4 linked regions of the Homo sapiens genome follow. The protein of the gene in region 2 interacts with the protein of the main gene of each other region in a biochemical or structural test. Each region holds a gene or a part of one and is shown on either strand. Other genes may lie near its edges.

Evidence for each region.
Region 1: the proteins of CLSPN (region 2) and TIMELESS form a complex in vitro, tested with the Homo sapiens proteins (one study listed by BioGRID).
Region 3: of the proteins of CLSPN (region 2) and USP20, one has a biochemical effect on the other in vitro, tested with the Homo sapiens proteins (2 studies listed by BioGRID, with this or other methods).
Region 4: of the proteins of CLSPN (region 2) and CSNK1G1, one has a biochemical effect on the other in vitro, tested with the Homo sapiens proteins (2 studies listed by BioGRID).

Annotation. Positions count from the first base shown.
Region 1 is NC_000012.12:56,446,408-56,453,799, reverse strand, and holds the start of TIMELESS (protein timeless homolog), read left to right. Parts: upstream 1-4,373; 5' UTR 4,374-4,490; intron 4,491-7,392. Other genes in the region: MIP (lens fiber major intrinsic protein), read left to right, coding at 45-209, 648-728, 2,335-2,520. UniProt on the Homo sapiens protein: Plays an important role in the control of DNA replication, maintenance of replication fork stability, maintenance of genome stability throughout normal DNA replication, DNA repair and in the regulation of the circadian clock.
Region 2 is NC_000001.11:35,766,959-35,774,314, reverse strand, and holds the start of CLSPN (claspin), read left to right. Parts: upstream 1-4,336; 5' UTR 4,337-4,444; coding exon 4,445-4,468; intron 4,469-7,356.
Region 3 is NC_000009.12:129,859,450-129,866,473, forward strand, and holds part of USP20 (ubiquitin carboxyl-terminal hydrolase 20), read left to right. Parts: intron 1-1,487; coding exon 1,488-1,584; intron 1,585-2,093; coding exon 2,094-2,163; intron 2,164-3,736; coding exon 3,737-3,850; intron 3,851-5,853; coding exon 5,854-5,932; intron 5,933-7,024.
Region 4 is NC_000015.10:64,353,153-64,360,224, reverse strand, and holds the start of CSNK1G1 (casein kinase I isoform gamma-1), read left to right. Parts: upstream 1-4,051; 5' UTR 4,052-4,237; intron 4,238-7,072.

The sequences.
Region 1 (7,392 bases), on a different chromosome or scaffold from region 2:
TGGCAGCCCTCCTGAGCTGTCTCTCTTCTTCTTCCTTTGCACAGTTGCACCCTGCGGTGAGCGTGGGCCAGGCAACCACAGTGGAGATCTTCCTGACGCTCCAGTTCGTGCTCTGCATCTTTGCCACATACGACGAGAGGCGGAATGGCCAACTGGGCTCCGTGGCCCTGGCCGTTGGCTTCTCCCTTGCCCTGGGGCACCTCTTTGGGGTAAGCAGGAAGGAGAGCAACTTCTCATTCAAGGATTCCGGGGCCCCTAAACCTTTCCCAACTTTTAAGGGTTCTTCCTGCCTACTTCACTGTCAAACATGAACATTGTCCATTGCACTCTCTACTGGCACAAAGGAATCAACTCTGCCCTATCCCTCTCTTGTGACTGCTATATCTAGTCCTTCTTGACCCCAAGGTAGAAATGAACGTATCATGGCTAGACATGGGCTTTGCCTATGGATCCATAGTCTGTTCCCAGACAGGGCATCAGTTGCCCTCACCCCATTGCAGGAACCCCTGGAGAGTCATGCAGGCTGTCCCTCTCCACTTGCTGCTGGCTGGAGAAAAGATGGCAGCTCTCAGGGGCAATGTGGGTTGTGGGGAGAGAAGCTGGGGTGCAGTAGGGGGGTGTCTCAGTTACAACTGTCTCTTTTGCAGATGTATTATACTGGTGCAGGCATGAATCCTGCCCGCTCCTTTGCTCCTGCCATTCTCACTGGGAACTTCACTAACCACTGGGTGAGTGAAGGGAGAGGGGCAAGATCCTGAAGCCCTTCTGGATGGTTGTGGACTGCAGGTTCCAGGCTGGATTCCTGCTTTCCTTCTGCGTGTGTTGGCTGCTGTACCAGCACTCAGCTAAGGGGGCTGTCAGAGAGTTTGGCATGCCTGTGTGAGCAGGATTCATGATTTTGCTAGAAGGAGAGGCTCTTGCTCATATTTTTCCTTCTCTGGTTAGTCAGGGAGTATGCACTGAGTATTCACTGGTTGCTGAACTAGCGGGTATGAAGAGAGACAACTAAATATGAGCAGAATAAATTCTGCTCTCAGAGATCAAGATGTGTTGTGAGCACAGATGGGCCTCAGCCCCATTCCAGTTCTAATACGTTATCGGCTTTGTGTGTGACCATGGGCAAATAATCACTCTGTGCTTCAGTTTGTTTTACTATAAAATGGGACATTACGAGAAATGTGTGAAAGTTATATGTGAGAAACATTTAGCACAGAATCTGATATAAAGTAAGCACTCAATAAATATTGGTTATGTTGATGTTGTGCAAGCCAAACATATGGAAATAATTTAAAAATTTTTCAAAGCTGTACACCCATTTTCATAACAGCATTATTCACAATAGCCAAGAGGTAAAAGCAACCCAAGTGTTCCTCAGTGGATGAATGGATAAACAAAATGTGGTATATACATAAATGGAATATTACCTGTAAAAAGGAAGGAAATTGTGACACATACCACAACATGGATGAATCTTGAGGACATTATGCTAAGTGAATAAGCCAGTCACAAAAAGACAAATACTGTATGATTACATTTATATGGGGTATTTAGAGTACTCAAATTCACAGACGCAAAGTAGAAGGATAGTTACCAGGGGCTGATGGGGGTGGGGTGGAATAGGCAGTTGTTTAATGGGTATAGAGTTACAGCTTTGCAAGATGAAAAAGTTCTAGACATAGGTTGCACAACAATGTGAATATACTTAACACTACTAAACTGTACACTTAAAAACATATATATATTTTTTTGAGATGGAGTCTCCCTCTGTCACCCAGGCTGGAGTGCAGTGGAGCTTGATCTCAGGATCTCAGCTCACTGCAACCTCCGCCTCCTGGGTTCAAGCAATTCTCCTGCCTCAGCCTCCTGAGTAGCTGGGATTTCAGGCGCCTGCCACCACGCCCAGCTACTTTTTGTATTTTTAGTAGAGATGGGGTTTCTCCCTGTTGGTCAGGCTGTTCTCAAATGGCTGACCTTGTGATCCGCCCGTCTTGTGATCCGCCCGTCTCAGCCTCCCAAAGTGCTGGGATTACAGGCATAAGCCACTGCGCCTGTCCAAAAATATTTAATATGGTAAATTTTATATGTGTTTTACCACAATGTATAAAATTTTTTTGAAAGCAACATACAAACTAGTGCAAATTGATAACAAATAGAATATACACATGCTAAGGTGTGGGATAAAGGAGTAATTTGATGAATCAGAAAATAAATGGTGAGTTTATTGTAGATATCAAGTGTACAATATCTTGTTTTCCACTAAGGTGGCTGGAAAAAGAGCAGCGTTGCTACTCTGTCCCCTCCCCAAGCCTGAGTATTCCTTTTCTCTTTCTACAGGTGTACTGGGTAGGCCCAATCATTGGAGGGGGTCTGGGCAGCCTCCTGTACGACTTTCTTCTCTTCCCCCGGCTCAAGAGTATTTCTGAGAGACTGTCTGTCCTCAAGGGTGCCAAACCCGATGTCTCCAATGGACAACCAGAGGTCACAGGGGAACCTGTTGAACTGAACACCCAGGCCCTGTAGAAGCTCCAGCTGAATAGAGGGAGTAGAAAGCTTCTGAGTTTACGTGGAGGGGTTTAGCCAGCCCCTAGATGAAGAAAGAGACTGTGGGGAGGGTCATGTACTTCTTTATTTTTTAACTTATGTATGTGGTTGTTTTTTTTTTTTTTTTCCTTTTGCTGTGTGAAATCTTTCAAGTTGCATTCATGAGCTGGTTGGTGCAAACTTCCCTTCCTCCCCATCCCACCACCCTTCGCCGTGTGTGCTGATTGTGCATATGAATGTGAGTGTGGCTGTGTCTGAGTTTTGGGGCATGAGAGCTAAGGAAGCAAAAAGAGGTGCCATCCTATACCTCCCTTCCTCGACCCAGTATGGTGAGTACTGGGTAACCGACACCTTAAGTTTCTGGCCTTTACCCTGCTGCCAGTCAAGTGTGTGGCTCTTGATTTCTGAGGGAACAGAGAAGCAGGGAGTTACTCCTCACACGAGGCAGATGGAGAGAAGTGGAGGAGACAAGGCTTCCAAGGGTTAGGAGAAGGGACTCAAGGGAGGTGGGTGGTGAAAACGGAGTATTAGCCCCAGATCAGGATGTAGGTGTACCGAAGAATTGGGGGGAAGTTAATGGGAATATATAGCCTACTTATCTTAGGGATGCTTGCCCCAGGGACTTGGGTGGGGAAGTAGCTCTGAGAAAAGTGAACACTAGGATTTAGCTGTTCTGTAAAGCCACGTAAACCTGTCTACATCCGCTGGCTGGTTGTGTTCATTCTGACATAATGGATCTCTTCAGAGGTCCTGGGCCAAAGAGCTTCCAACCTAAATAGAGCTTGGGCAAGCCTAGAATCTAGAAAAATTAAGCAGCTTAACTGGTCAGCCTGACATCCACTGTTGTGGCTGCCTGGCAGATGGTATTTAAGCCCCACAATTGTTCCCTAAGGCCAACACAGGAAATCTGATTCCTGGAGCAAATAAATGAACGGGTGGTAGTAGGGGGCATGAGGGGAGAGGCTTTGACTCTGTTCTAATTTATTTAGAGCAAATCAAAACACTCCTCAAATGGCATCTTTCTGCTTTTATCACTAGTTCCGTGTTTTTTTTCTTGTTTTGTGTCTGTGTATTTTCATTTCTCTGTCATCCGTCCTTTCATCTTGAAGCAAATCTCTTCTAACTCCCTCATACCCCAGAAATTGATTCCTTCTATTCAAATGCTTAATAATTCAGGAGATTATTATTTGTTTGAGCCCTATCTTCTTTTTTTTTTTGAGAGGGGGTCTTACTATGTTGACCAGGTTGGAGTGCAATGGATATTCACAGGCACGATCATCGCACACTACAGTCTAGAAATCCTGGGCTCAAGCGATCTTCCTGCTTCAGCCTCCCCAGTAGCTGGGATTACAGGGGGCCAGAGCACAGCCCTATTTTCTTTTCCTTTTGGCAAGATCATCTCAGCAGAGGCCAGAAGAGACCCTCAACTGTTCAATGAATATTTACGGTTGCTTTCTTCCTTTTATGAGCCTCTTGCATACTTTGAAAGCTTTAAATTTATACCTATAATACAACGGACATCCCCTATCCCAGAAGACCATTCCTCCCTGTACTTCAGCTCTTTACTTCCTCCCAAATAAAACCTAACTTTTCTAACTAACTATTTAAGACTTGGAATAGTCCGCTTGACTAGAAGAAGGGGAAGAATGTTTGTAAATTCACCTCTAATCGGACTTTGATTCTACTATAATTCAGCAGAAAATTCATAGCGCTGTGATTTTTAGATCGACCTCACATAAAACAGTCCCTGCACTCGCTTCCCTTTTCCTTCCTTCTTCACCAATCTCCGCCCCAGTTCGCTCGGAGTCACGTGGACCAGCCCGGCTCGCCCCGCCTCGCTCTTCGCGCAGGCGGGGACCGGTCCAGCTGAGCCTGGTGGCGGAAAGGCTGCGGCCCCGCGCCAGAGGGCCGGTGGCTCCTCCGGGCTTCTGAGGACCCGCAGGGAGCGGGTGAGTGAGTGTGTGGCGAGAGGGCGCTAAGCGGACACGGGGATCCTTTCGAAGCTATGGGGGCATTCTCGGGAAACGCTGAGTCCCTTTTCCCGCCACCCGGTTTAGAGCCAGGGGGCGGGGCTCGTGCTGCAGGCGCGCACGCGCAATTCTGTACTCTGCTCCTTAGTCTCCCGCGCCGCGTTCCCGGGTCTCACCGGACGCGGGCTTAGCCCTACGCTGCTCCGCACAGCTTGGGTCTCCCGCGGGATGGGGTTGTGATGGAAAGGGGCTTGGAATTCCTGAATTAGAACAGAAAGTGCCTGAGGGAGTTCCACTTCGGAGCTTAGCATCTAGTTGAGACCTCCTGAAAAAAACCGGTGTGTGGCCTGGCGGTCAGCAGTGGTCGGAATTCACAGGCCGCTTTACTTATATCGTGGGTTTTATGGAACGGATTTCTCACTCCCTCCCTTCGTTGCCTTGTTCGGGTTTGTCACCTGGACCTCAGCCGCTAATGAAGCTTTTTTCCTTGAGCCTCTCAATTCTTTGCCATTCGTGCTTCGACTAGTACTTTCAATTTTTTATTTATTTTATTTTATTTTGAGACGGAGTCTCGTTCTGTCGCCCAGGATGGAGTGCAGTGGCGCCATCTCGGCTCACTGCAACCTCCGCCTCCCGGGTTCAAGCGATTCTCTTGCCTCAGCTTCCTGAGTAGCTGGGATTACAGGCGCGCGCCACCATGCCCGGCTAATTTTTGTATTTTTTTTAGTAGAGATGGGGGTTTCACCTTATTGGTCAGGATGATCTCAAACTCCTGACTTCGTGATCCGCCCGCCTCGGCCTCCCAAAGTGCTGGGATTATAGGCGTGAGCCACCGCGCCTGGCCTGTTTGTTTTTTTTGGTTGTTTTGTTTTGTTTTGTTTTTGAGATGGAGTCTGGCTCTGTCGCCCAGGCTGGAGTGCAGTGGTCCGATCTCGGCTCACTGCAACCTCCGCCTCCCCAGTTCAAGCGATTCTCCTGCCTCAGCCTCCCCAGGAGCTGGGATTACAGCTGCCCGCCACCACGCCCGGCTAATTTTTGTATTTTTAGTAGAGATGGGGTTTCACCATGTTGGCCAGGCCGGTCTCGAACTCCTGACCTCAAATGATCCGCCCGCGTCGGCCTCCCACAGTGCTGGGATTACGGGTGTGAGCCACCACACCCGGCCCTACTAGTACTTTGTACAAAGTAAAGGTAGATCATCTGATGTTAAATTTAAAACTCCTCTTTGACCACCCACAGTTAGCCTTAAATCCGTAGGTGGGTGTCTGTGGCCTCTCAGTCTGGCCCTGACCCTCTCAATCTCATTTTGTAAATCTCTTACGCACCTGACTCCTGGCCACGTGGAAAGATTGTGGCTGCCCTCTTTCATATCTCAGTACTTAGTTCCTGCTGTTCCTTCTGCTTGGAAGATCTTGACACTGCTCTGCCAAGCGAACTTCTCTTTGAAGACTGAGCTTAATTGTCCCTCTGAAAATCAATGTATCCAGCTTCCTATGCCAAGTTAGTCACTTCTTCCTGTGTGTCCCTGAAGTTTTTTACCCCCCTCTATTACCAGGGGCACTGATACAGCTCAATAAAAGATCAATAAAAGGTTACTGAGCTCCTAACATGTACCATGCACTGTGCTTAGCGCCAGGCTTACAGAGATGAGTAGGATGGAGAGTTCCCGACCCTTAAGGAACTCAAGTCCTAAGGAAAACACATGTAATTGAGTCTTCTGTGGTTACAGTGAAAGGGTCATCAAGAAGTCCTTCCTGGCTTCCTTCCTCCTCTCACTGCACTCACACCATCTTACATCCTGATGCCTCCAAATCTTTAGCTCCAAACTCTTCTCCCTCATCTTCCAGACTTCTCTGTTTCAGTTCAATTTAGTAAAGCATTTATTGAGCACTTACATTGTGCTGCGTAATGATGATTCCTGATGTGAAAGAGTTTACGTTTTCGTGCAGTTAACATAGGATAGTTAGAATCACCTGAGGAACATTGTCAAAACACTTGCCTAAGCCCCATCGCTGGAAATTCTGATCCTGTAGCAAGGCTCTGAAAGTTCAAGGGTGAATAAGAATTCCTATCTCTACTAAAAAAAAAAAAAAAAAAAAAAAAAAACAAAAATTAGCTGGGTATGGTGGCATTTTCCTGTAATCCCAGCTACTTGGGAGGCTGAGGCAGGAGAATCACTTGAACCCGGGAGGCGGAGGTTGCAGTGAGCCGAGATTGCACCATTGCATTCCAGCCTGAGTGACAGAGTGAGACTCGTCTCCAAAAAAAAAAAAAATAAAAAGAATTCCTGTCCTCAGGGAATCTAAGGCTAATGGAGGGAGATAGACTTTGATTTTAACTATTATATACAACATGAATTGTAAGTACCATGTTGGAAGTCTGAATATGGTACACAGTAGACATTAAGGAAAAGGAGGTCACTTCTGTATGGAGAAGTCAGGAGGAAGTCCCTTTTGGGCAGTCTTTTTTTTTTTTTTTGAGATGGAGTTTTGCTCTTATTGTCCAGGCTGGAGTGCAGTGGCGTGGTCTCCCAGGTTCAAGCGATTCTCCTGGCTCAGCCTCCCAAGTAGCTGGAATTACAGGCACCCACCACCACACCTGGCTAATTTTTTTTATTTTTAGTAGAGACAGGGTTTCACCATGTTGGCCAGGCTGGTCTTGAAGTCCTGACCTCAGGCGATCCATCCGCCTCAGCCACCCAAAGTGCTGGGATTACAGGCATGAGCCACTGCGCCTGGCCTGCACAGAGTCTTCAGAGCTAAGCTGATATTTGGATGGGAGGCCATTCTAGATAGAGTAGTGGCTTGAGAGAGAAGCGTGAGAGGTAAACAGGAGAGAGATTCATGAAAGACTTTGTATTGTAGGCACTGGAGGTCACTGA
Region 2 (7,356 bases):
AGGCTGGAGTGCAGTGGTGCACGATCTCAGCTCACCACAATCTCCGCCTCCCAGGTTCAAGCAATTCTCCTGCCTCAGCCTCCCAAGTAGCTGGGACTACAGGTGCCCGCCACCACGCCCGGCTAATTTTTGTGTTTTTAGTAGAGTCAGGGTTTCACCATGTTGGCCAGGCTGGTCTCAAACTCCTGGCCTCAAGTGATCTGACTGCCTCAGCCTCCCAAAATTCTGGGATTACAGGCATGACCCACTGCACCCAACCTCCAAAAAAGAACACATTTCTGAGAAACTAAATTAGTTACCTAAGTTTATGAAGCCCTCTATGGGACAGGTTCAGACTAATCCCTGTAAAGTGAGCACTCCAGATGTTTCCTTTGTTGCCATTTATCAACTTGATAAACAAGGATTGTTGGATGACTACAACAATGAAGGGACAGAGAGGTCAAGGTGATTCACAGGTTTCTAAACTGGTGAGTGGATATGGTTCCACTCACCAAAATTGAGAATACAGGTTGCTAATTCTAAATACAGACTCACTTTATCTTGGCACAAGTTAATGTGTAAAATAAAAGTTTCCTGGGGATGGGAGGAGTATGAAGTTGTTGCTTAATGGGCATAGAGTTTCAGTTTTGCAAGATGAAAGGAGTTCTAGGCCAGGCCCGTTGGGTCACACCTGTAATCCCAGCGCTTTGGGAGGCCGAGGTGCATGGGTCACTTGAGGTCAGGAGTTCAAGACTAGCCTGGCCAACATGGTGAAACCCCGTCTCTCCTAAGAATACATACAAAAAAGTAGCCAGGCGTGGTGGCAGGTGCCTGTAATCCCAGCTACTTGGGAGGCTGAGGCAGGAGAATTGCTTGAACCCGGGAGGCAGAGGTTGCAGTGAGCCAAGATAGCACCATTGCATTCCAGCCTAGGCAACAAGAGCAAAACTCCATTTCAAAAAAAAAAAAGAAGAGAAAAAGAAAAGAATTCTGAAGATTGGTAGATTGGTTACATAACAATTTGAATGTACTTCTGAACTGCATACTTTAAAATGGTTAAGATGGTAAATTTCATGTTATATATGTTTTACCACAATAAAAATTGAATGAAAGGTTTTCCTTTCCTAGCTTACCCATGTCCACCCATTGTTCAAATTGGAGCTTTCTCTCTTAGCTTCTGTGATGAGTGAAAAGGTGCTCCCCAAAGATATTTTAAAATACTAATATAAGGAATATTATTTCACTCATTCATTTTCAGAGGGAGCTCAAGAAGTTGTCAAGTGAATGAATTAATTAGTTCAACAAATATTTATCAGTTTTCCTACCTTGAACCTGGGATGTTCTAAGTCCTTTGTTCTCAAAGTGTGGTCTCCAGATCAGCAACACTAGCATCACCAGGGAATTTGTTAGTAATATACATTCCTGTGGGGCACGGTGGTTCATGCCCGTAATCCCAGCACTTTGCGAGGCCGAGATGTGCAGGTTGCTTGAGTCCAGGAGTTTGAGACCAGCTTGGGCAACATGGTGACACCCCGTCTCTACAAAATAAAAAATTAGCTGGGCATGGTGGTGCACACCTGTAGTCCCAGCCACTTGGGAGGCTGAGGTGGAAGGGTTGCTTGAGCCTGGGAGGTTGAGGCTGCAGTGAGCTGTGATCATGCCACTGCACTCAGGGAGAAAAAGAAAAAAAGGAAAGAAAGAAGTATACATCTCTGGACCCCACTTCAGACATACTGAATCAGAAACTTTGGCACTAGGACCCAACAATAGCTGTTTTTACCAGCCTTTCAGATTATTCTGATGCATGCTCAAGTTTAAGAAAGACAATTCTAGGTTGCAATGATACAGAGGCCAAGAAAACAAAACGCCTGTTCTCTTGGAGCAACAACAGACAAATAGATATAAATAAAATTTCAGGCAAAGGAAAGTGTTATCAGGGAAACCAGCATAGGATAAGGAGGCAGAACACAGAGGATGCTCAGGCAGGGTCTTTCTGAGGGGTATGAGCTCTGAAGTCACATAGAGTCTGAAAATTGGCTCCACCAGTTTCTAGCCTTTTAAAAGTCTGGTTTCCTCATCTTCTAAGAAAGAGATAATAATATTACAAGTTTACTCTGAAGATTAAATAAGATAACACTTATAAAATCCTTGCAACTGTTTCTGCCACTGAGTAAGGCTTCAATAAACGTTAGCCCTCCATATATGATGGGGAGTGCCATAGATGTATACCTGGGAATCGTTGATGTAGAAATTAATAGTAAATGGATGAAAAGGTGGATAAACCAAGACACAAAAAGAGAAGAGGATGGATGATGGGCTCTTGTTGGTGGGGACAGAAGTGGATTGAGAGATGGTGGGGAAGTAAAGAAATGAAGATGTGGAGAGGGAGCTTTTTTCTGAACCCAGCTAAAGGTGGAAACTTGGAAGAGGAGGCCAGTGGATTGGGTGAAGAACCAACCATTTGGTATACCTGTGACTGAGGAGGTTCTCAGGATGCAGGACTTTTAGTGCTAAAACTAGGAAAGTCCTGGGCAAGCTGGGCCAAGCTGGCCACACTGGCAGTGGATATGACCATGGAGGGTGAAGTGAGCAATAAATACTCTGACCTTTCTTTCCTGGTGGCCTCTCATCTCCTTACAGTAACCTTATAAGGTGTCTTTACAGGGGCCTGACCCAACCAGAAGGGCAAGGGAGCTGGGATAATACAGTCTAGAGAGGTCAGCCTTGCCTTGACACACACCAGGGTAAAGGAAGGACAGAGAATTGACCTGGAGAGGCAAAAAATAATGGCCAGCACAGTGGCAAAACTGGGATTAGAATTGTCTGGGATAGGCCAGGTGCGGTGACTCACACCTGTAATCCCAGCACTTTGGGAGGCTGAGACGGGCGGATCACGAGGTCAGGAGTTCAAGATCAGCCTGGCCAAAATGGTGAAATCTTGTCTCTACTAAAGTTACAAAAAATTATCTGAGCGTGGTGGCACATGCCTATAATCCTAGCTACTCAGGAGGCTGAGGCAGGAGAATCGCTTGAACCCGGGAGGCGGAGGTTGCAGTGAGCCGAGATCACGCCATTGCACCCAGCCATGGTGACAGGGAGAGACTCTGTCTCAACAAAAAAAAAAAAAAAAAAAAAAGAACTGTGTCTGGGATAAACCTGATTTCAGAGCTTCAATTCTTTTTCCAGCCTTGTTTAAAGGTAGAATGCCCTCTAGGAGTGATGAGTGCTTTCTACATCCTCAAATTAACTCTACAGAGAATTATAAAGATTATCCAACCATATTCTTTGGTATCTGAGCAGCCCACAAAACTTTTTTCTTTAGAGACAAGGTCTCCCTCTATCGCCTACGCTGAAGTGCAGTGGTGCGATCATAACTCACTCTAACCTCAAACTCCTGGACTCAAGCCATCCTCCCACCTCGGCCTCCCAAAGCGTTGAGATTACAAGCGTGAGCCATGGAGCCCGGCCCTCTTTAAAAAATAAAAGTGGGCCGGGCACAGTGGCTCACGCCTGTGAGGGGTATGAGGCCTCCCAGCACTTTGGGAGGCCGAGGCGAGGATCATTTGAGATCAGGAGTTCGAGACCAGCCTGGCCAACATGGTGAAACCCCGTCTCTACTAAAAATACAAAAATTAGCCAGGGGTTGGTGGCGGGTGCCTGTAATCCTAGCTACTCAGGAGGCTGAGGCACGAGAATCGCTTGAACCCGGGAGGCGGAGGTTGCAGTGAGCCGAGATCGCGCCACTGCATTTCATCCTGGCTAACAGAGGGAGACTCCATCTCAAAAAAAAAAAAAGTGTGTGTGTATACACATACATGTGTATGTGTATATATGTGTATGTATATATGTGTGTACATATGTGTGTGTGTGTGTATATATATATATATATATATATATATATATATATATATATATTCAGTGGTAAGTGTCATGTACAAGAGGCACACAGGATCTAGCTGCTCCAGAAATGAAGTCAGTGGAGAAAATCCCCACGGGAACCTTGGAATTCCTCTAAAAAGTTCAGGTACAGGACACTCCCAGGTGCCCAGGAACCGTTTCCCAGCTCACTTCCCCCCGAAAGACTCACCCCTCCAATCGCACTCGATGCTTTGGCAAGTGTCAAAGGTCAAAGACCACGGCTCGCCTGGTACCGACTGCCCCGCCCCCGTGCACCTCCAGCTCCCCCAGGCTCCGCTACCAGCAGCTGCGACCCGCCAACTCAGCCTGGGTAATAGGAGATTGGGCGGCCAGAGGCGCTGCGTGATTGGTGGGTCGGAAGGGGGCGGGGACTCGCTGGAAAGCCCCCTCTGGATTGGTGCAAACCATCTGGGTGGGACCTCCACTCTGGCTGGGCGGGAAAGCAAGAACAGCACTGCTGGGCTGGAGACGGCGGGAGCCGCTGCTCTCCGGCTGAGGGAATCAGAGACAGCTCCGTCCCTAGTGGAGCGCAGGGGAGGCAGAAGTCATGACAGGCGAGGTGGGTTCTGAGGTGAGTTTATGCACACGCCCCCCACGGGGGCTTAGAAGGCCGGGCACCGAGAGGTTAGGTGGGGCCGGGGTAGACCCCGCTGACCCGAGGCGCCCGGGCGGGAGGACTGCGGCTCCCGGCGTTCGCCGCGCCGGCTCCCGCGGCCTCGAGACTCGGCCGGGATGGGTTCCGACCGGGCATCCCGTCCCGCCGCCGGGCTTCCCGCGCTTCGGGCTCCGTGGCCGGAGAGCTCCAGGTCTCTGCGGCGCGCACTGCCGGCAGCCCAGCCCCTCTTCAGCCGGTTCCTGCCGCCAGCCCTCCCCTTTGGCGCGTTTCCTGTCGCGGAAGCTCCTCCCCTCAGGGTGCTCTGAAAGCCGGGAGGCTCTAGCCGAACCCGGCCGCAGCGGTGCGGGGGGATTCTCCGCAGAGAGAGGGCGAGCGAGGGTGTTAGGGAGTTCCACACTGGGCCTGGGAGGGGCCCTGGAGGTCATCGCGCGCAGGCCCTTTGCGTTTTCCGACCGGGCCCCGAGTGGGGAAGTCACCGCTGGGGCTCCTGGCTGGTGGCTGGCAGCTCCCTGGCGAAATTGGGCATAGAAAACAGATGTTTCCAGAGCTGTGTCCTTTCTGGGCCGGATTCGGGCAAGGCACTCCCGCCTTAGGAGCAAAATTTAAAGGGGCGCCAAAACCCTCAATCAAACTCATATTTTAATGCAATATTTTTAAAAAACCAAAATTAATGCAAAAACTTTTTATGATTTGATATTGAACAAAATATCAGACGTTTAAACAAAGACGAGATCCGACCAGTCATTTGCACGACCTTGCCTCAATCACCTCACCCTAATTCCATCCCTGTTTCCAATAAACTTTATTTACAAAAGCGGGCATATTATTTACCTCATGAGCTGTAGATTATTGATTTAATTTTTTAAAAAATATTGCATTAATGTTATTCATTTTGATTACTGAATTTTTTGAGACCTCACCCCACCCTGTTACTGGCCCTGCCCTTTGACGTTGCTGCAAATTGCCTAGAAGATAATCGTCATTCAAAGCAGCCCTATTCCTTGAGCTGTCTGGTTACCTAAATTCGGTTTCCACACTCACAAACAGAAGTAATAGTTTTACTGCTTTGGATTGTTGAGAGGATCATCAGTGCATACATATTAATTCTCAGCAATCCCAGCACTTCGGGAGGCTAAGGCCGGCAGATTGCTTGAGCTCAAGAGTTCGAAACCAGCCTGCATAGAAAACATGGCAAAACCCCGCCTCTACAAAAAAAAAAAAATTAGCCGGGCGTCGCCTGTGGTCCCAGCTACTCGGTCCCAGCTACTCGGGTGGCTGAGGTGAGAGAATCCTTTGGGCCTGGGAGGTCAAGGCTGCAGTGAGCCATGATCCTGCCACTGCACTCCAGCCTAGGTGACAGAGTGAGACACTGTATCAAAAAAAAAAAAAATTTGTACCTTGCATTCAAATCAATTTAATAATTTTTTTTTTTTTGAGACGGAGTCTCGCTCTGTTGCCCAGACTGGAGTGCAGTGGCACAATCTCGGCTCACTGCAACTTCTGTCTCCTGGATTCAAGCGATTCTCCTGCCCCAGCCTCCTGAGCAGCTGGGACTACAGGCACACACCACCACGCCCAGCTAATTTTTGTATTTTTAGTAGATACGGGGTTTTACTGTATTGGCCAGGCTAGTCTCGAACTCCTGACCTTGTGATCCACCCACCTCGGCCTCCCAAAGTGCTGGGATTACAGGCGTGAGCCACCATGCCTGACCAATTTAATAATTTTTTGAGAAACCACTCAGCTGAGGCCTTGTGCCCTGTTACATTACTGATGTTCATATTTCTCCCTTTATTAATAAGTTGATTCAGAGCCCTGAGAACACTAAGGAGGTAGACTTGGCATCTAGGGTTAGCTTTAAGGTCACTAACTGATCAAGTCACCTAACACACCCCTCCTCCTTAGGTTTTTATTTGCGACTTTTTAAACTGTCTTATTTAGAAATTTTCAAACCTATACAACCGTAGAAAGGATGGTATAATGAACCCATCACCTTACTTCAACTACAGTTTGAATATCTCTCGTCTGAAATGCTTGGGACCAGAAGCGTTTTGAATTTCAGATTCATTTTGGATTTTGGAATATTCGCATACACATAATGAGATATCTTGGGGGAGGGACCCAAGTCTAAACATGAAATTCAGTTATATTTCATATATACCTTACACACATAGTCTGAAGGTAATTTTATACAGCATTTTAAAATAATTTCGTGCATGAAGCAAAGGTTTTACTGCAGCTCATCATATGAGGTCAGGTGTGGAATTTTCATCTAGTGGCATCATGTCAGTGCTCAAATATTTTGGAATTGGGAGCATTTCAGATTTTCAGGTTAGAGATGTTCAACCTGTATTTTCAAGTCATGGCCAATCTTGTTTTATTCATACAGCTACCCATTTTTCCTCTCACAGGATTATTTGGAAGAAAATCCAAGATATCATATTATTTGAACCACAAAGATTTTAGTGTGCATATCTAACAAACAAGAGCTTTCCAAAAATAGATACTACGATATTATTACCACACCTAAGAAGTATCTAGTCAGTGTTCAGATTTCTTTGACTCAGAGATATTTCATTTATTTTTATATGCCACTTTAGCATAATTATTTACATTTTTAGTTTTTTGAATCATCATCCGAAGTTGGCATTTTGTAATTGTTTATATTATATATGTGTATATATGCATATATGTATGTATTTTAAGATATACATACATATATAAAGCATACATTTATGTATATAGAAATATACAGGGCCGGTTGTGGTGGCTTACGCTTGTAATTCCAGCATTTTGGGAGGCTGAGGCAGGCGGATCACCTGAGGTCAAAAGTTCGAGACCAG
Region 3 (7,024 bases), on a different chromosome or scaffold from region 2:
TTTTAGTAGAGTCAGGGTTTTGCCATGTTGACTAGGCTGGTCTTGAACTCCTGACCTCAAGTGATCCGCCTGCCTTGGCCTCCCAAAGTGCTGGGATTACAGGCAGGAGCCACCGCACCTGGCCTCTCCTTCTGTTTAGACAGTCACATGATAGGGCTCAATATTGCTCAAAATGCTTATTGAATGCATTTGTGAACTTGGTAGATATTTATGAATTTTTATAGAAAAGGCTATAAAACAGTATATGCAATATCTTGTTTTTGTTGTGCATGTGTATTAACAGTTAAAAGTCTGTATAATACAGGCTGGGCGCCATGGCTAATGCCTGTAATCCCAGCCCTTTGCTGGGCCAAGGCAGGAGGATCGCTTGAGCCCAGGAGTTTGAGACCAGCCTGGGCAACAGCGTGAGACCCTGTCTCTACAAAAAATAAAATTAGCTAGGCATGGTGGCGCATGCTTGTAATCCCAGCTACTTGGGAGGCTGAGGTGGGAGGATCACTTGAGCCCGGGAGTTCAAGGTTGCAGTGAGCTATAGTTGTGCTACTGCACTCCAGCCTGGGCGACGAGCAAGACTCTATCTCTTAAAAAAAGTCCACATAGCCCAGGCGCGGTGGCTCATTCCTGTAATCCCAGCACTTTGGGAGGCCGAGGCGGGCAGATCACGAGGTCAGGAGATCGAGACCATCCTGGCTAACACGGTGAAACCCCGTCTCTACTAAAAATACAAAAAATTAGTCAGGCATAGTAGCGGGCACCTGTAGTCCCAGCTAGTCAGGAGGCTGAGGCAGGAGAATGGCATGAACCTGGGAGGCGGAGCTTGCAGTGAGCCAAGATTGCACCATTGCACTCCAGCCTGGGCAACAGAGCGAGACTCTGTCTCAAAAAGAAAAAAAAAAACGTCTACATAAGATACATACAGACTATTAACAGCAGTTCTCTCAGGAAAATGGGGTTGCATGTTTATGTTTCTATTTTTCTCCAAATTTATTATAAATAAAATATTTTTTTTATTGCCAATAAAAAAATGCAAGTCAACATCTGGACACAGTGGCTCATGTTATCCTAACACTTTGGGAGGATCACTGGAGCCCAGTAGTTTGAGACCAGCCTGGGCAATATAAAAAGGTTAGCTGGGTGCTGTGCATGCACCTGTAGTCTCAGCTACTGAGAAGGGCGAGGTGGGAGGATCCCTTGAGCCCAGAAGTTGGAGTCAGCAGTGAGCTCTGATTGTGCCACTGCACTCCAGCCTGGGTGACAAAGCAAGACCCTGTCTCTAAAAAAACACAGACACACACAAATCAAGGAGTTCCCAGGGCAAGGCCACCAATCCTATCTCTTTTCACAGTACCTTCTGCTCAGCTGGACTGGCTCAGCCCAGTAGGGCCTTCCGGGCAGTAGGGCTGGACTTCCAGCCCTTGGGAGACACCTGGGCCTCTGACCCCAGCCCCTCTGTTCACTGTTTTCCTCACTTTGGGTCTTTAACACAGGACTCCCCGCCACCCTCCCACCCTCTGAAAGCTGTTCCTATTGCTGTGGCTGATGAAGGAGAGTCTGAGTCAGAGGACGATGACCTGAAACCTCGAGGTAATGGCCCCCACAGCAGGGGAAGCTGATGGGCTGGGCTGGGGGCCCTCATCTGGAGGCTGGAAACCGCCAGAGTCTTGGTCTCTATTTGCACCTGCTATATGGGCAAGGAAGGATGGGGTGACGGATAAGCTGTTTAGCATGGTGGCTTCACCCCAGAAGTTGGCTGGCCTAGCTAAGGTTCTGGAGAGCTGGCTATCTTGTCCCCTCTCCCAGCTGGGTGACCCTGGGCAGGCCGACCCCTCTGCTGTATGGTCTGGACAGTGGGCCTGGCTGGGCGGAGGGGCAAAGGAGTTCATCTGTTTAAAACACTCAGGTAACCGCAGCTGTTGTGAGCAGGAACCACGTTAGTTTACTGGGAAGATTCCTGGGGTGGAACGCTTCCACCATGTCCTCTTCTTGGGTCTTGGGCAGTTGAGAGCCACACCTTTGTGCCAAATGTGACTTGCAAGGTTTCCTCGGTGGGGCAGGGTGCTCACCTGCTCCTCCCCGTTGTGTTTATTTCCCAGGCCTCACGGGCATGAAGAACCTCGGGAACTCCTGCTACATGAACGCTGCCCTGCAGGCCCTGTCCAATTGGTAGGTCGACACTTTGTCCGAGGGCCGAGAGCTGTCCCTGGCAAAGCCCCGGAAACAGCAGCAGTAGCAGCCCCCAGCCGGTTGCCCACAAACACATGTATAGGATGCACAGCAAAATGCCTGAAAGCATGTATACCCTTTGACCCAGCAATCCTCCCAGTCAGAATGTATCCTGAGGAGATAACCGGAGATGCTGGGGAAGTTGTACGTGCAAGGAGGCTCAGTGCTCTGTTGTTTACTGGAAATGATTTAAAGGCCCATCTGCAAGAGAGTATAAATTCTCATAGCCCTTGCAGCAAGTGCAGGAAAAATGGCACAAGACAACATGCATTGAAACAAGAAGGGGTTCAGAATCTGGTGAGTGGGGGAAAAAGGAGGTTATAAAGCATTGCATGGTACAATCCCGTTTTATGGGAGAAATGCGATTTTCCATTAAGGATAAGGCTGTGAGCTCCATGAGGCCAAGGATGTCTCCTGTGTCTGACGTGCTTCTCCTACCCAGTGGAGGTTAGAGATGCAGTATATGTATGCGGGAAGCAGAGAGGGAATGGGTACAAATGCGTAGAAAAGTCTGGAAGGCTATGTCCCAAAATGTTCCTAGTAACTATCCTCAGGTGGCAGGATGCAGGTCAATTATTGTTAATAATTGACCACACCCAGGCTGGGCGCAGTAGCCCACGCCTGTAATCCCAGCACTTTGGTAGGCCGAGGCAGATGGATCACCAGGTCAGGAGATAGAGACCATTCTGGCTAACATGGTGAAACCCTGTCTCTACTAAAAATACAAAAAACTAGCTGGACGTGGTGGCACGCACCTGTAGTCCCAGCTACTGGGGAGGCTGAGGCAGGAGAATCGCTTGAACCCGGGAGGCGGAGGTTGCAGTGAGCTGAGATCATGCCATTGCATTCCAGCCTGGGTGACAGAGCGAGACTCCGTCTCAAAAAAAAAAAGAAAAATTGACCGCACCCAATCCGTTTTAACTTTAATAACCTCTTTAAAGGCCCTGTCTTGGCTGGGCACCGTGGCTTACGCCTGTAATCCCAGCACTTTGGGAGGTCAAGGCAAGTGGATCGCCTGAGGTCAGGAGTTCAAGACCAGCCTGGCCAACTAGTAGAGCCTGTCTCTACTAAAAATACAAAAAAATTAGCCAGGCATTGTGGCATGTGCCTGTAATCCCAGCTACTCGGGAGGCTAAGGCAGGAGAAGCACTTGAACCCGGGAGGCAGAGGTTGCAATGAACCAAGATTGCACCACTGGACTCCAGCCTGGGCAACAGAGGGAGACTCTGTTTCAAAATAATAATAATAATAATAAAAAAATAAGGTAAGATAGATAAGATGAGATAAAATAAAAATGCCCTGTCTCTGGGAGTTAGGGCTTCGCAGATGAATTTTGGAGGATACAATTTTCTCATAACTGGTAGGAGCCTTCTAGTCACCTTCAGGAGTTTCTGGGTCCAGGGCCACTGTGCTCCCTGTGCGAGCACTCAGGGCTCCCCGCTATGCAGCCCTTTCTAAACTGCCGCATGCCTCATTTGCTCTCCTGACCTGGCTCTCTCTCCCCTGCACCCAGCCCGCCGCTGACTCAGTTCTTCTTGGAGTGTGGCGGCCTGGTGCGCACAGATAAGAAGCCAGCCCTGTGCAAGAGCTACCAGAAGCTGGTCTCTGAGGTCTGGCATAAGAAACGGTGAGCAGCTGCATCCCTAGCCTTGGGCGGTGTGTGGGGACTGGGGTTTCCTGTCAGCACCCATGATTGAGTACTTCCTGTGGATTCAGCCCCCAGCGAGGACTTGCCTCACTTTGTCCCGGGTAATGCTTGCAGCAAGCCTGCGGGGTGGAAATTGCATCCAGTCCTGTTTTACAAATAGGGAAACTGAGGTGCAGAGCACTTTAAGTATCTTGCTCAAGGTCATAGAACCTGCAAAAAGTGAGCTAGAATTTGACCTACTGTTGACCCTACCGAGCAGCCACTGGTAGATGTCTTTGCCAAGAGACATGGTGACCCGGCCTCAGCCAGGACTGTGTGTGTAGAAGGAGGTGTGGGGCAGGGGAGCACAGACTGGATGGAGCTTCTGGCACAGTATGAAATTAATTTAAAGATCAGAGTCTGTGATTAGATCTGTTTCTCCAGGAAAAGTCAAAGTTGGGAATAATTTTAAATGAGCACATAGAAATATGTATTATGTGTAGAAGCGGATGAAAAACCAGCGTAGGGCCAGGCGCAGTGGCTCACGCCTGTAATCCCTGCACTTTGAGAGGCTGAGGCAGGTGGATCACGAGGTCAAGAGATCGAGACCGTTCTGGCCAACATGGTGAAACCCCGTGTCTAATAAAAATACAAAAATTAGCTGGGTGTGGTGGCGTGTGCCTGTAGTCCCAGCTACTCGGGAGGCTGAGGCAGGAGAATCACTTGAACCTGGGAGGCGGAGGTGGCAGTGAGCCGAGATCGCACCACTGCACTCCAGCCTGTTGACAAAGCGAGACTCTGTCTCAAAAAAAAAAAAACAAAAACAAAACAAACCAGCATGGGAGAAATATGTATTAAATGTAGAAGCAGATTAAAAACCAGCGTGGGGCCAGATGCAGTCACTGACACCTGTAAATCCAGCACTTTGGGAGGCCGAGGCAGGAGAATCATTTGAGCCTAGGAGTTTGAGACCGGCCTGGACAACACAGCAAGACCCCGCCTCTACAAAAACTACAAAATTAGCTGAGTGTGGTGTGAGCACTTGTGGTCCCAGCTACTCAGGAGGCTGAGGTGGGAGGATCGCTTGAGTCCAGGAAGTTGAGGCAGGCTGCAGTGAGCTTGATCATGCCATTGCACTTCAGCCTGGGCGACAGAGTGAGACCCTGTCTCAAAAAAAAAAAAAAAAAAAAAAAAGTCTGTGTGCAGTGGCTCACTCCTGTAATCCCAGTACTTTGGGAGGCCGAGGCGGGTGGATCGCAAGGTCAGGAGTTCGAGACCAGCCTGGCCAATGTGGTGAAACCCCGTCTCTACTAAAAATACAAAAATTAGCTGGGCATGGTGGCGCGCACCTGTATTCCCAGCACTTTGGGAGGCTGAGACAGGAGAATCACTTGAACTCGGGAGGCGGAGGTTGCAGCAAGCCAAGATCATGCCACTGCACTCTAGCCTGGGAAACAGAGCAAGACTCTGTCCCAAAAAAAAAAAAAAAAAAACCCAGCATGGTACAATATAATTCCGCTTGTGTAAGAAGCCAAGTTTAAATGTGTATCTGTATGTATTTTTGTATATGCATCTGTAGTTTCACAGAACCAGAAATCTAATGGTAAGTATCTGGTGCCATTGGTGGTGGTGTTTTTCTCTTGTACTTTTCTGAAATTTTAGATTTGTCAATAATGAACATGTCTTACTTTTGAAATGAGAAAACCACAGTAAGTGTTTCAGAATGAAAACAAATCATGTTTAGGCGAGTTTGTTGTGCACCAGAAGGAAATGATGCTATTTTATTTGAGCTCTTTGCTTAATTGAGGCAGCTATGACTTGACATTTTCTTCTTGTCTGTAGAGATGTGTGAGCCTCTTGGGGCTCCTGGCTGAGTAGGCCCCTCCCCAAATGTCAGGAAACGCCACACTCTGATCCAGCCTGACGGGCTGGCTGCCTGCTTCTCTCGGGAATGAGCAGCTCAAGGCAGGCTACCTGGACTAATGGGTTTGGGCTTCCTACAGGCCAAGCTACGTGGTCCCCACCAGTCTGTCTCATGGGATCAAGTTGGTCAACCCAATGTTCCGAGGCTATGCCCAGCAGGTAAGCCATCTGAGCTGCCCAGGGGACACCCAAGGCCATGACCCACCAGGCCTGACTTTGACGCCAAAACCAGAGTGGAAAATCGCAATGGCAGCTGAGCACTGGTTGGCAGGTCTCACGGACCAGGCTCTCACTCCTAAGCCCTTCACACGTGTGAGGACAGTGGAGCCTCCCAGCAACCTGCTGACATTTAACCCCACTTCACAGATGGACAGACTGAGGTTCAGGGGCCGAGCCACTTGCACAGGCCACACAGCTAGTAAATGGTGGAGGGGAATTCTTTTTTTTGTGGGGGAGGGTGGGTACAGGGTCTCACTCTGTCACCCAGGCTGGAGTGCAGTGGTGCAGTCATGGCTTACTGCACCCTCGACCTCCCGGGCTCAAGCAGTCGTCCCACCTCAGGCTCCGAAAGTGCTGTGATTATAGGCATGAGCCACTGCACCCGGCGGAGGGGAGATTTGAACCCAGGCAACCTTGCTGCAGGGCCTCCGCGTTGCACCCAAAATGACACAGGGTTTCATTTCCCCAAACCACAGGCAAAATTTCACTTTTATTAAAGTAAAAAGTTTGATTAAAAATTTTTTTTAAATCTAGAGAACCCTTTTGAAACCAATCACATTTTTCTATTTTATAAAATAATGAGACCAAGACAGAGTGCAGCCACGCGTACACCTCAGCCCCGGGCTGATGGCTCCTGCCCTCCAGCCTCCTGCCCCAGATGGCCCACAGCCTGGGCTTTCATGCCAGGCCTGCAGGCAGAGCTGGACCTGGCTGGGTCACCTCTTGTGCTGCCTGAAATGAGCACCATGGACGGAGTGGCAGTCATGTGGGGACAACTTCCGCCCTCTACCCCCTGCCTGCTGTCCCGTCCCAGGATGAAGTCTGCTGGGCCTTTGGCTCCTGCTTGAGAAGCTCAGCACTGCCTGGACACCTCTCTTTTTGGGGAGTGATAACATGCACAATGACTAAAATTCACTGAGCACCATTTAAGTGGTCACAACTTAGTCCTCATAGAAGTCTCACAAAGTGGGCACTGTTGTCACCCACACGTTACAGGTAAAGAGCTGAGGCTCAGAGAGGTTCTACCCCTCA
Region 4 (7,072 bases), on a different chromosome or scaffold from region 2:
GGCGGATCACGAGGTCAGGAGATCGAGACCATCCTGGCTAACAAGGTGAAACCCCATCTCTACTAAAAATACAAAAAATTAGCCGGGCGTAGTGGTGGGCACCTGTAGTCCCAGCTACTCGGGAGGCTGAGGCAGGAGAATGGCGTGAACCCAGGAGGCGGAGCTTGCAGTGAGCCTACATCGCGCCACTGCACTCCAGCCTGGGCAACAGAGCGAGACTCCGTCTCAAAAAAAAAAAAAAAGAATATGGATTCATGGCCGGGTGTGGTAGTTCACACCTGTAATCCCAGCACTTTGGGAGGCTGAGGCCTCCAAGAGTTCAAGACCAGCCTGGGCAACAGAATGAGACCCCCTTCTCTACAAAAAATACAAAAATTAGCCAGGTGTGGTGGTTCACAGCTATAATCCCGGCACTTTGGGAGGCTGAGGCAAGCGGATTGCTTAAGCTCAGGAGTTCAAGACCAGCCTGGGCAACATAGTGAGATCCCATCTCTACAGAAAATACAAAAATTAGCTGGGTGTGGCTGCACACTGCATGCCTGTAGTGCCAGCTATTTGGGAGGCTGAGGTAGAAGGATCGCTTGAGCCTACGAGGTGAAGGCTGCAGTGAGCCAAGATTGTGCCTGCACTCCAGCCTGGGTGACAGAGTGAGACCCTGTCTAAAAAGAAAAAAAAAAAAGAGAGAGACTATGGATTCCCCACAAAAATTACAAAAGTGTAGTTAAACTCACATACCTAATTTTAGGTGGGGTTTGTACTATCTATCTTTAGAGATCTCAAAGCAATGAGTATGTTGAAAATAATAGAATAGAGGACATGTGATGAATTAGGAGTCAAGCCAGTTATTCATACACCTATACAAAAGTGCCTGGAGTTTTTAAAAAAGCTGTAGGAAGAGAGGATGTAAACAAATGCTGCTTATAAATCATTTTTCTTCAGGCAGTGGGTAAAATGAGTGATGCATAGGAATTTGCATTTCTACATTGGCTTACGCTATCACATTTAATCATAACTTGATTTTCTTAATAAAACATTTCTTTCTATAGAACACATTTATTATTTACCATAATCATGTTTTAATTTTTTGAAACATCCTAGTCTATCATAGTTTTAGATATATTGTTGTTCATTGAGCTCATTTTATTTACTATTTCAAAGTTTTTTGATATTTAAACCTGTTTGGCAATTGAAATACCAAGCTCTGTTTTGTCAGGGTAACATGTTTACCACTTGTCACTTTCAGCCAGGTTTTTTTTTTTTTTCTTGGAGACGGAGTCTTGCTCTGTCTCAGGCTGGAGTGCAATGGCACGATCTTGGCTCACTGCAACCTCAGCCTCCTGGGTTCAAGCGATTCTCCTGCCTCAGCCTCCCGAGTAGCTGGGATTACAGGCATCTGCCACCATGCCCGGCTAATTTTTTTTTTTTTTTTTTGATTTTTGGTAGAGATGGGGTTTCTCCATGTTGGCCAGGCTGGTCTCAAACTTCTGACCTCAGATGACCCACCCTCCTTGGCCTCCCAAAGTGCTGGGGTTACATGTGTGAGCCACTGCATCCCGCCCAGGTTTTTAAAGGAACAATTAGTGGATGAGCTGAAATTCCATTTGAATTGTGCATGTGTATATACTCCCACATGTATTCATGTCAATGGCAGAGGTGGAGATGTATTAAACATCCTATTGACCCATTTGAGTTTGAAGTGATTTCCTAAAGGTTTTGCTGAAGTGATTGCCTATGGTGAATCAATTTAACCCTGTCTCATGCATACAGGAAACCAATAGACGTGGTGTTTCGTTTAAGTGACCAAAGCTCATTTCCTCTCTGCCCCAGTTAAGGTGGATAACAGTTCAATTTTGGTGTCTATAAAGAGGTTATCATGACCAATAAAATTAGAGCCTGCCGTGGCAAGTATATTCACTGCCATGGAATAGAAAACAAATTTAGGAGCTACTGTTAAGCATTCTGCTTGTAAGAAGACCTATTTAAGATAGGAAAACCAAATGAAGATTTTTACTCATTTTTCTCTGAATGCCCAACTGCATTTCTCTGAATATTTTACCTGCCATAACGATATGGGTTCTTTTCCTTTTTTTTTTTTTTTTCTTTTTTCTGAAACGGAGTCTCGCTCTGTTGCCCAGGCTGGAGTGCAATGGCGCAATCTCGGCTCACTGCAACGTCTGCCTTCTGGGTTCAAATGATTCTCATGCCTCAGCCTCCCGAGTAGGTGGGATCACAGGTGCCCACCACCACGCCCAGCTAATTTTTCTATTTTTAATAGAGACAGGGTTTCACCAGTTTGGCCAGGCTGGTCTCGAACTCCTTACCTCAGGTGATCCTCAGGCCTCGGCTTCCCAAAGTGCTGAGATTACAGGCGTGAGCCACCGCACCCAGCCTCCAGATACGAGTTGTTTTTTTCGAGTATTACTTTGTTAACTTTTACCCCAACCATTCATTTTCCCAATATTTTCAAACCCCAAATCACCCAGACACAATAAATGAGGTCTCTTTTCTTATCCATAGTGTCGGTATGAAAGTTTATTTTGAAGGTTTTTTTTTTTTTTTTTAGACGGAGTCTAGCTCTGTCTCCATGCTGCAGGGCAGTGGCGCGGTCTCGGCTCACTGCAACCTCCGCCTCCCGGGTTCCCGCGATTCTCCTGCCTCAGTCTCCCGAGTAGCTGGGACTACAGGCACACGCCACCACGCCCAGCTAATTTTTGTTTGTTTGTTTATTTATTTATTATTATTTTTGAGACGGAGTCTCGCTCTGTCATCAGGCTGGAGTGCCATTGGAGTGCAATGGCACGATCTCGGCTCACTGCAATCTCCGCCTCCCGGGTTCAAGCAATTCCCCTGCTTCAGCCTCCCGTGTAACTGGGACTACAGGCACGTGCCACCACCCCCAGCCAATTTTTTGTATTTTAGTAGAGACGGGGTTTCACCATGTTGGCCAGGATGGTCTCCATCTCCTGACCTCGTGATCTGCCCGCCTCGGCCTCCCAAAGTGCTTACAGGAGGACTACAGGCGCGAGCCACCGCGCCCGGCCAATTTTTGTATTTTTAGTAGAGACGGAGTTTCACCATGTTGGCCAGGATGGTCTCCATCTCCTGACCTCGTGATCCGCCAGTCTCGGCTTCCCAAAGTGTTGGGATTACAGGTGTGAGCCACCGCACCCGGCATATTTTGAGTTTTGAGTGGAGGATTAGACAGTCTTCTTCCTTCCCAAATTTGATTATGGGCTCCCTTTAGCCTTTTTCTTTGTTTTCTGTCTTTTTTCCACCACCACCCCGCCCCCGAGGCGCAGTCTCAAGAGGTCCTGAGAACATGTGCCCTGCTCTCTGTTTTAAGGATTAAAATAACTGTCGAGTTACATTGAATCTTTTTTGCCTATTCCATTTGGCTAGGTTAATTCCAGACCTTACACAAACATGTGCAGCTCTTACAAAATGTAGGTGAAGACAACATTTTTCTAACCATTCGGCTTCATGGGCTGTCACAGGAGAACTAAGTGCATGAAAAACCTTTCACAACATTGAAAGAAATTTTAAAAATCTGGTTGAAACACAATTAAAAATCCACAAGAGGGAGATGCTTGCTAAACCGTCAGAAAATAATTCCCTCGAGGGACCTGAGAGAGGAGCCTGGAGCCTTAGGAACAGCCACTGGGTCAGCCACGGGATTAAGGGTGGGAGGGAGCAGGAGTATATAGAGACGGGGGCTTGGTGGAGGAGTACAGTTGAAGGGAAAAGCGGGATGGGTTTCGTGCCTCTGGCAGCGAAGCGTGTACTTGGTCTAAGATCTTGAGCAGAAGGTAAGAGCGTGTTGCCAAAGCAGAGCTCAGTGCTCCCGATATATCTTCTGGTAGTCCCAGAAGAAATGGGGGTGGGTTGCTTTGAAGGCACTTCCGCTTAGCAACCCCACGCGGTTGCTAAGGAGGGGGCAGCCGTGGGGATAACCCGGAAGTGATGGTGTCAGTTTAACGCTGCCTGCCCAAAGTTTGTCCTATTAGGCCCGCCAGGGTACTCTGCGACTCCGGGACGAGGGCGGGGCCGCGCTAGTGGTTCCGGTTCGGCTCCAGCCGCCCCTCGGCTCCTCGCCTTCCCCCTCCCGTCCGCCTTCTCCCCTCCCTCCCGCTCCTGGGAAAGAGAGAAACCACCGCTGCGGGTGGGTAGAGAAGCACTTGGCGCCTCGGGGAGGGGACCGCGCCCGCCTCATTTGCGCCTTGCAGCACTGCTGGACCAGGTATCTGCCCGGCTTCGTCGGGGTTCTGTAGGCTGAAGTCTGAGGGGGTGTGTGTGTGTCTGAGGGGGTTGGTGGGGGGCCCTTTCCTGGGCGTGGGTGGGGGACGCCGTGATCCCGGGTGGGGCGCAGGCTGGCGTTTGTGTCTGTGGAGGGTTGCGGGGGCGGAATGGAGGGGCTGAGGGACACAGCGGGTGGAGAGTTTCGGTTAGCGGGGTAGAGGTAGGCGGAGGAGGCGCCCCTTCCGAGAAACTGACTCTAGCCGGTGTGGACCGGGAGTTTGCCACCTGGAGGGCTTACTCTGAAAGGGGGAGCATCCCCCGGGAGCCAAAAGGAGGGCACAGATCTCGTCAGGGTGACTGGGGCTATCCCGTGCTTCCATTGCCCTCTTTCCCTACCCACCCCGCTGGGACAGAGCTGGACTTCGAAGGTTGTGGGGGTTCTGAGTCGACTGGGTACCGCGGGGAGCCGCCCTTGGCGGAGCTTAGGGCACAAGAGTGGGTAATGAGACTTTCCTCTACCCAACTTCCGTACGCTTCCCCCACTTCTTCCTTTACTGTTTCCTCGCCCCCACGTCCTACAGGAGCAATGTCCCCCAAGTGGGCAGGCATCACAATGTAAAAGAGAGTGGAACTGGGTTTGTTGCCCCTAAATGACACTTAAGATGTTTGGAAAGTGCCTGAATGACATATTCAACCAAGTCTCCCAGCTCGATATTAATTCCGGTATAAATTACCTTAGAAAAGTGGAATTCTGAAAAGCATTTAACAATAGGCTAGTCCAGGTGTAGTCTTGTGTAGTAGATGTACGTGTTTATTTAAAAAGAATGGACTGGGGAAACCATATAGATGTATCACAGGTCTAGGCAAGACATGTTGAGGCAAGGCTTTTGCAGCCTCTTTCTTACCTGCCAGTAAACCTGTCCTAATTTAAATGAAGTAGAAAGATCCTCTTCATTTTTGTTTCAATCAGTGACTGAATACTAGGTGCTGTGTAGTGATGTCTCAGAACAGATATGTGAATTTTCAGAGAGAGAATGAATGTTCTGCTGTTGAGCCTGTGTCTTAATCTTTTAAGGAGATAATTGCGGTCAAGTGGAAGTATTGACTTTCAGGCAGATAAATCTTGGGTTGAACCTAGACTATGCCAGTTGCTAGTTACTGACCTTGGGCAAGTCATGGAACCTACCAGAGCTTTTGTTTCTTCATAAGTAGTATGAGTTAAAATTCTTACCTGTATTATAAGTAACATCCCATTTTAAACGGAACCACCTTTGAATTAGAAGATAAATTATTACCATTAATCATACACAGTCAAGGCAGCCCAGTTTTGTGAAACGAGGTTTGAGATAGGAAAGCAACCGGATAATTTTGAAAAAAAAATGCATACAATAGGACTTTCAGTGTCTTCTCGAAATTGATCGTAGGTAGCATGAAATTCAGTTATCAGTAGTTTCTTAAAATTCAAAATAATAAAGTAGAATATGGCCCATTTATTGAAATGAGCAAAATATATTTTATAGATTTTTCTCAGCTACACCATATTGGTGTTTATAGTATGGATTAACACGAAATACATGAAAAAGTAATGTATGTAAATCTTAACATCACATGTCTCTTTAAAGAGAATTAAAATTGGGGTGTAAAATAGAAGGTACTTGTTTTTTGTTTGTTTGTTTGTTTGTTTGAGACAGAGTCTTGCTCTATCACCCAGGCTGGAGTGCAGTGGCACGATCTCGGCTCAGTGCAACCTCTACCTCCAGGATTCAAGCGATTCTCCTGCCTCAGCCTCCTGAGTAGCTGGGATCACAGGCGCCTGCCACTACACCCAGCTAATTTTTTGTATTTTTAGTAGAGAGAGGGTTTTACCATGTTGGTCAGGTTGGTCTTGAACTCCTGACCTTGTAATCCATCCGCCTTGGTCTCCCAAAGTGCTGGGATTACAGGTGTGAGCCACCGTGCCCGGCCTACTTGTAATTTTAAGATAAAAATCAGCAGCATCAGCAGCACCTCTCATCTCAGTTAGATTTATGCTACTAGAAAAACTTATATAATATTCAGAAAACAAAATCGAATACATTTCTGCCTTTAAATCATTCCTTATTACGATATAGAAATAAATCCAAGAAACATGAAGTCTGTTTTTTATTTATTTTTAGTGACAAGGTCTTTCTCTGTCACTTAGGCCAGAATGAATGCACTGGGGCAATTATACTCACTGCAGCCTCAAACTCCTGGGTTCAAGCAAACCTCCTGCGTCGCCCTCCCAAAGTGTTGAGATTACAGGTGTGAGCCACCTCACCCAGCCCATGAAGTCTTTTTCTTTCTTTTTTTTTTTTTTTTTTGAAATGGAGTCTCACTCTGTCACCCAGGCTGGAGTGTGGTGGCACGATCTCGGCTCACTGAAACCTCCACCTCCCAGGTTCAAGCAATTCTCCTGCCTCAGCCTCCTGAGTAGCTGGGATTACAGGCACATGCCACCACATCCAGCTAATTTTTTTGTATTTTTAGTAGAGACGAAGTGTCATCATGTTAGCCAGGATGGTGTCTATCTCCTGACCTCGTGATCCACCCGCCTCAGCCTCCCAAAGTGCTGGGATTACAGGCATGAGCCACCGTACCCGGCCAAAGTCTTTATACTCATTTGTTTTGTGGATTTAAAATAATATAGTTATGTGTCACCTATTATATGTCAGATTTTCAGCTAACGTAGTTTGCTTTTTGAGGTGACTTATAGTTAGTTATTTTCAAATGTAATTTATACTCAGAGGACAAAAATCAAATAACTTCCTGTAATAATAGATGTTTGTGAGAATACAAAGTTTGCAATTCAGTTTGA